Regions from separate parts of the Homo sapiens genome. Here region 2 is linked to region 1. The links come from fine-mapping of genetic effects on gene expression. A gene starts in region 1. The other region holds a variant in brackets. All regions are shown on one strand. Distances are between the middles of the regions.

Region 1 (4,000 bases):
AACACATCTAACATCCAATCATTATTTATTGATTTACACAAATACAGTGGGTGTAGGGAGGAGGTGATGCATGATGAAATGTTATTCTCAGGTACGCAATACCTTTCTAAATCTCCGTGGAATACATGAATTCAACGTTTTACCTTCACCGGCTAGTTTTTGACTAAAATACCCCATCACCAAGTCTTTTCAATCAAAGCTCTCCAAAATTCTACAATCGAGCAAATAACATGAAATTAGAAACATTCAATACTAGACTTTCCTCCAGAAGCCCTGGTAACTCTCTAGACATCAGGCCTATGAGGAGTAAATTAAAGCCCATTAAAAATATTCAGCCTAACACAAATCTTCCAAGAAGTGAGACTTTTGTGGGTGATGGGTAATGTCGGTGAACTTCCTCTTCCTTTAAAAAGGTCAAAGACAGGGAAGCGTCCGGCGTCACATTTCCTCCTCAGATCTCTACCACAAACCACATCACAACTCTCCCATTACTAAAAAAAATTATCCAGAGGAACTGCTTTCTGTACATTTTCACCTTAGACTGAAAATCCAACATACCTCGGAAACGAGCTGATTGGTTTCAAACAAGAAATTTACCGATAAAGTTTATTATGTACTAATAATAATTATGGAAGCCCACTGTGTCCCGCTGTAGGGGGAGCCGAGGGGAGGTGAAGAGCAGGAGGGTGTAATCCTCACAACAACCAGAGAAAAGCCTTCCCTGCAGGGTTGGTCCCAGGCACCAAGCAAATTCTGCCCAATAAAGGGGGGGAGGGTACCTTAGGGGAGGAGGGGAGAAGGGACCCCAAGCTCTAAAAGGAAGGGGCTGCAGAAGCATGGCCAAGTGGGGCTAGCTTTCACAGTATTGCAGAGGGTCTGGGGGTCCCCCCGCAGTGCTGCTGCCGGGGCACCCCAAAAGCTCCGCCCAAGCCCGATGCAGGGGCTTGAGCCGCTGTCCCTTTCCTGGCTGGGCTGTGGCGGCCGGCAGGAGGGTCCCCTGGGCTGCGGGGTCCCCCTGGACTGCGACGACGAGAACCGAAGGGCCGACAGGAAGGTGAAAAGGATACTGTTGGGGCGCCTGAGTCTGGAGGGCCCTGATGTTCGGGTGAGGAGGGGGGACCGCTGCCGCCGCCGCCGCCGCCGCCGCCGCCGCCGCCGCTGCTGCCGCCGCCGGGTGAGGAGGCGGTACCGCTGCTGCCGCCGCCGCCGCCGCTCCGGTGCCGGGTCCGGTTCCTGCTGCAGTCGCTGTGCCTGATTTCAGAGCCGGTTTCTGCGGTAAACTCATGGCAAAGCGAAGCCACCAACCCCCCCAGAGCGGGACCGGGCGCGCCGGGGTGCAGGGGCCGGGGGCAGCGGGGGGGCGGGATGGGGGCAGACCCGGGGAGGCGGCGGGAGCGGGGGGCTGGGGGGAGCCTGGGGGGAGGAGGAGGAGGGGGCCGGGGCCGGTCACACACGCCCGACGCCGCCGCCGCCGCCGCCGCCGCCTCCGCCGCCGCCGCCGCCGGCAGCAGCAGCCGCCCCGCGGGCCAGCACCACCGGCTGCCGGTCTCCGTGACAACGCGACCCCAGGGGGGGGGCCGGACCCGGCGGGGGCAGGAGGCGGAGAGACCGGACCTTTCACGGCAATATCCTCATGGGCCGGCGGCGGGGGATCTTTATCCCCCTCCCCGGAGGAAGCGGCGCCCTTCTCGGTAGCGGGGCTCAGGCGATGCCGGTGGATTTTCTTCACTCAACGAGCAGAGCATCCAACATGGCGCTGTGGCCGCCTCCAGCAGTCCGGCAGGACGGCTGCTCGGAAAACTTCGGACTTTTTCGGAATGGCTCGGGAAACCGAGGGTGGGAAGCCTCTTCGGCTCTTTCCGGAGACTGCTAGGGGTCGGGATTCTTCGGAGACGCTCGGGTGCGTCCTCGGCCGCCGTTCGGGAGGGCTCAGGGGCTAACTCGCTTCCTCGGCAAAGATCGGCGAGGGAGGCTTCGCTGGCTTACAGCGGCGCGGGTGCGGGGCGGAGGGAAAGACCAAAGGCGAGGTCTGGCTTGCGAGAGTCCTCCCCTGCGGCCCAGCCTCGAAGAACAATGGTAATGGCCCCGGAGTCGGCTGTTCGCTGAGCCCCGCTCGCAGGGGCGGAGAGGCAGCGGCGAGGCGAAAAACCCCTGGAGAAGGAACCGCTTAACCGGAATGGAACCCGTTGGATAGGGACCCCCCGCGGGGACTTCGCGTAACCAATGCCACCCGCCGGCCTGTAACCCACGCATTTCACACCCATTGTGTCGACACTTCCTCAGACGCTCTGAGAGGTGAATGAGGAGCCCCATTTCCAGAGGACACAGAGGAAAAGTGACTAGCCCAAGGTCACCCTATCGGGAAAGGACAGAGCCTAAATCTAAATGCCACCTTCATCTGGATGAACCTTGCCGCCTCCCATATTGGCTGGGGACATGACCTGAGCCGCCATATCTAATCAGCAGCCTTAACTGAGCTCTGTGGATGGATTCAAACCTAGGCCTTCCCCAGGACTGGAGCGCCCTTTGACCAGCAGCCAGTGATCAGCTCCCCAATGTCCTATGCTGGGTGACATTTGTTGATAAGGATTTTCTTCCCAGCTAGACCTGCCAAGATCACTCCCACCCCCAACCCCGCACACCCCACTCCTTAGCAGGTGCCTTGTCCTAAGCACAGTGGCATTGAGTGGGAAAGAATGGCAGGCATCGGCCGGGCGCGGTGGCTCACGCCTGTAATCCCAGCACTTTGGGAGGCCAAGGCCGGTGGATCACTTGAGGTCAGGAGTTCAAGACCAGCCTTGCCAACATGATGAAACCTCGTCTCTACTAAAAATACAAAAATTAGCCAGGCGTGGTGGCAGGCACCAGCTACTCGGGAGGCTGAGGCGGGAGAATCACTTGAACCCAGGAGGCGGAGGTTGCAGTGAGCTGAGAGAGTGCCATTGCACACTAGCCTGGGCGCGACAGAGTGAGGCTTCGTCTCAAAAAAAAAAAAAAAATGGCAGGCGTCATGGAGCAATCAAGTTTTAATATAATATTTACCAGACATGGCACTAAGCGCTGTACCCTTCATTATCTCAAGCAGTCCTGTGAAATAGGTAGTATCCATTTTACAAATGAATAAACTGAGACTGGGGAGGCTCAATACCATCAAACCACAGAAAAGCTGAGAAAATTGAGGCTCAAAACGCACAAAAGACTTCCCCGAGGTCGCACCGACAGTGTGGCTGGCAGAGCTAAGATTAGAGTCTAGTTCTGACTCCTGCTATCCTGCTTCACACACTGCCTTACTATTTTGTTGTTGCTGTTTTTTGAGACGGAGTTTCGCTCTTGTTGCCCAGGCTGGAGTGCAATGGCACGATCTCGGCTCACGGAAACCTCCGCCTCCCATGTTCAAGCGATTCTCTTGCCTCAGCCTCCCGAGTAGCTGGGATTAGAGGCATGCGCTACCACGCCTGGCTAATTTTGTACTTTTAGTAGAGACGGTGATTCTCCATGTTGGTCAGTCTGGTCTCAAACTCCCAACCTCAGGTGATCTGCCTGCCTCGGCCTCCCAAAGTGCTGGGATTACAGGCGTGAGCCACCGCGCCTGGCCTATTGTTGTTTTTAATTCATATAAAGCTCTACACATAGTGGATGCTTAATTCGTGACAATCCCTGGGAGCCCCAAATGCTCCTTCTAGGATAAAAGAGCATCTGAAAGAGAGTGATACCACAACCCCCCTACGGCGTCTTTCTAGCTAGAGCTCCACAGTTTCTGACATTGAAAAGGATGCCTCATCCCCATCTCCAGACTGGAAGACAGCAGCTACTTCATACTGTGGCATCTTAAACTGTCTGGATTTGTAACACCTGATTTTTTTATTTATTTATTTTTTTTTTTGAGACAGTCTCGTTCTGTCGCCCAGGCTGGAGTGCAGTGGCGCAATCTTGGCTCGCTGCAAGTTCTGCCTCCTGGGTTCACGCCATTCTCCTGCCTCAGTCTCCCAAGTAGCTGGGA
Region 2 (4,099 bases), 110 kb before region 1:
TTCACTCCTCCAAGTACTTTTGCTTAATGAGAACCCAGAAAAACTATACCAGTAAATGTTACTACTTATTTACATATTTTTGTTCTCATTTACATAATCATTAATGTCTCTTCCTCACATTCCCACATGTACTTAAAACAACGTATCACCATCTTGCCTGGTAAAATGAGCACTCTTAAAGACAAGGATCATAGTGTCCACCACTGCTTTCTCACATTACCAGGCACAAAACCTTGCATATAGCTCTCATTCAATATATGTTTTCTAAATTAAGTTTATCTCAATATTCTTAAAAGCTCTGCAACATCTCCAATGTTTAGTCCCCTGGAAAAGCAAGCTCCAAGAGGCCAGAGGATCTTTCAGTTATTTTGTACTTAGGAAAACACAGAAAAGTAACTTCAAACACATTTTAGGCTGTCACAACAGGAAAGGCTGTTCTCTATTTAGAAAGAAAGGCCAAACAGAAAAAAGACTGAGTCTAACTCGTAGGAATTTTTACCGGGGGAGAGGAGGGGGTAGGAAAGCAGCAGCAGCATCTGGATTTCACAAATATTTGATGACACTGACTGTGAGGTTTGTCGAAAGAAAAGAGGATGAGCTAATCATGGGTAAGAATGAGATTTTTTTTGTTGTTTTACGTAAAAGGTGAGCACAGGAAGAATAGAGAAATGAAATATACTCAATCATGGTTATCTTATAAATCATTATAGAATTCAGTCAAAGATGATCTTTCAAAGTAATGCAAGACTTGAACTCAGCTAACTGTCCTATATTAAAATTTTGGAAAAATAAATTTAAGACCACAAAGGAAAACGGCAAGCCACAACTTATTACTGCTAATACAATATTATTTTTCAATAATCTAGGAAAATTTTAAGGCCACTGTGGAAAACCATTTGCATCTAGTGATTGAATCAGGATAGAATTATTACCAATTTGCATATCAGGCAGTGGCAACTAAGACTGTGGAAAAAAAAAGTTTGATGCTTACTTTCTCTAATTGCTACAATAATGTATAAACATGATTTTTGTTAAAAAAAAGAAAAAGTAGTGCCCTCTTTACCCTTCAAATCCCACTCCACTCCCTATGGCAAAATGATTAATACTCTGAAGCACATTATTACAAACCTTTCTATACACTTACAAATGTGTAAAAATAATAGCAACAACACAATAATAAATATTCAATGACATGTTTTCCTCTCCACTTATCAAAACATTAGAGATCTTTCCAAGTCAATAAACATACCTACTTCATTCTTGTTCTAAATGTTTAAGTAGTACTTCATGGTGTAGATATAACTACATTCTTCTTAACTATTAATTTTTTAAAACTCCTTAATGAAAAGAACTATATAACCTACTAACATTTTAAGAGCCAAACATGTATGTGCAAACATAAAATAAAAAACAAACTACCTTCTTTTTGCTAAGTTTCAGATATGTCAATTAATATAAATTGGAACCACCCAAAAACTGAAGAGAGGGCAGTTTTAGAATATCAAAGGTAAACTGACATTCCATAAACATTCTTGACAGCACAATAATAATTCTTAACTAGTAATAATAGACTGAATCTTTTTGTAAGTGTAAAAAGAAACTTCCAAAGAACTTGAAAGTGGACTAATTGATATTGTTGTCTAGTAAGTTCATTTTATTATATTTCATTCCATTTCTTGAGAGTAGGTACAACCGCTACCACCCCCTCATACCCTGCATACAATAGGTTCTTCAGTGCAAATGACTGATTTTCAACATTAGCTAATGCAATTCATATCAGATATAAAGAATAAATTGAAAATTCACATTAGCTTTAGTAGCCAAAATAAATGATTGATCTAATATAAGAAACATGTTAGCCAGGTGGCATGGCTCGTGCCTGTAATCTCAAAACCTTGAAAGGCTAAGGCAGGAGGATCATCTGAGGCCAGGAGTTCTAGACCAGCCTGGGCAACATAGTGAGATCCTGTCACTACAGAAAATGAAACAAAACAAAATTAGCCGGGCATGACGACATGCACCTGTAGTCCCAGCTACTTGGGAGGCTGAGGCAGGAAGATTGCTTGAGCCCAGGAGTTCAAAGTTAATTACAGTGAACTATGATCATGCTACCATGCTCCAGCCTGGACAACAGGGTGAGAACCTGTCTCCAAAAAACCAAAGAGAAACACATCCACTCCATGTAATCCTCCAGTGCAGTCCTGACACTCCACAGAAGGTTCCATAAATAAAAACTGTATCCACTACTACCATCTGCAAAAACTGGCATTTGAAAAGCACTTACACGGCCGGGCACGGTGGCTCACGCCTGTGATCCCAGCACTTTGGGAAGCCAAGGAAGGTGGATCACGAGGTCAGGC[A/G]TTGAAGACCAGCTTGACCAAAATACAAAAATTAGCCAGGCATGGTGGTGCGAGCCTGTAATCCCAGCTACTCAGGAGGCTGAGGCAGGAGAATCGCTTGAACCCAGGAGGCGGAGATTGCAGTGAGTCAAGATTGCGCCACTGCACTCCAGCCTAGGTGACAGAGCGAGGCTCCGTCTCAAAAAAAAAAAAAGAGAGAGAGGAAAAAAAAAGAAGAAGAAAAGCACTTAAACAGCTACTTCCCAAATGCTATTTTCCCAAATAAGTTAAAGACAGAGAGAGAGAAGTAGCTTTTAAACATAAAGTGACAATAATCTACAACTACACCTAGGCAACACTATTAAAATTATATTATTTCTACAAACAACTTCCTATGGGATTATTAAAAATGAACAATGGGTCTAATAATATGGCAACGGTTAAGTCAAAAGAGAAAATATATTTAACACATGGATAATTATACTACAAGTCTTTTATCCCTTAACTTCCTAAGTTTTGTATCATGTACATCTAGTAGTTTATTAAAGGAGTTTACTTTTCTAAGGTAATAAAGTTGGACATTCCAAGATGACAAATATATAATAAGTATTGATGATAAATACTAAAGTTTGAAAAGCAACACCACTGGCTGGGTGCAGTGGCTCATGCCGGTAATCCCAACACTTTGGGAGGCCAAGGTACAAGGATTCCTTGAGCCCAGGAGTTTGACGCCAGTGTGGGCAACATAGGGAGATCCCATGTCTATACAGAAAAAGACATTTAATTTTTTTATTTTATTTATTTATTTATTTATTTTGAGATGGAGTCTCACTCTGTCGCCAAGGCTGGAGTGCAGTGGTGCTATCTCGGCTCACTGCAAGTGCTGCCTCCCAGGTTCACGCCATTCTCCTGCCTCAGCCTCCTGAGCAGCTGGGACTACAGGTACCTGCCACCACGCCCGGCTAATTGTTTGTATTTTAGTAGAGACGGGGTTTCACTGTGTTAGCCAGGATGGTCTCGATCTCCTGACCTCGTGACCCGCCCGCCTCAGTATCCCAAAGTGCTGGGATTACAGGCGTGAGCCACCACGCCTAGCCTTTAATATTTTTTAAAAATAAAAAAGCAACACTATTGAAATGAAAGTCATAAGCGTTTTATCTAACACCACACTAAGCTTGTTCAGATTTCATATCAAATAAACGGTATGAATAGTTTCTTCATTGTAGTTGTAAGAATAGAATACTTACTGATGGTGGCAGCAGCTGCTGGTACATATCTGAGTGATGACTGTGTATCAAGCTCTAGGAGGTTTAAATGGATTTGTCTCATTTAACCTTCTTAAGAACCTTTGGAGATCAGCACTATTATTATCTCCATTTTACTCATGAGGAAGGAAACTGAGGTGCAAGAAACTTACCCAATGACACACACAGCTGCTAGTGGAAGCGCCAGGATCTGAATTCATTTGGTCAGATTCCAGAGCCACTTAGCTGCTCTTAACATTCTGCTCCCCATGTAACCTATAAACTCCAATTCATCTGCTAATAAATATGAGTATTTTCATGATTTAAATATTATGTCATTCCCTTAGTAGAAACTCTTCAACAGCTCCTTCTATACATCAGATAAAACCCAAATACTTTATCAAAATCTTACAAAATTACATGACCTAGATTTTGTCAGCCTCTAGAAGGGCATTTTCAAACGCCCTTGCAGCTATTCACATTTAAATTAATGAAAATTAAATAAAATTTAAAATT

The links. PIP is the estimated chance that this variant, and not a neighbour inherited with it, causes the effect.
Region 2: its variant is the best candidate, but not a certain one, in a credible set for the expression of EIF4G3 in whole blood (INTERVAL, PIP 0.51).

The regions. Positions count from the first base shown.
Region 1 is chr1:21,175,108-21,179,107 of GRCh38, forward strand. EIF4G3 (eukaryotic translation initiation factor 4 gamma 3) reads right to left here and starts at 1,790. Exons shown (of 37, transcript NM_001391906.1): 1 at 1,615-1,790; 2 at 1,068-1,251. RefSeq lists an enhancer at 1,705-1,754.
Region 2 is chr1:21,069,266-21,073,364 of GRCh38, forward strand. All of the region lies in intron 3 of EIF4G3 (eukaryotic translation initiation factor 4 gamma 3), which reads right to left. Among named protein-coding and RNA genes, the nearest start is that of MIR1256, 83 kb to the left of the region's middle. The variant A/G (reference allele first, on the strand shown) is at 2,361.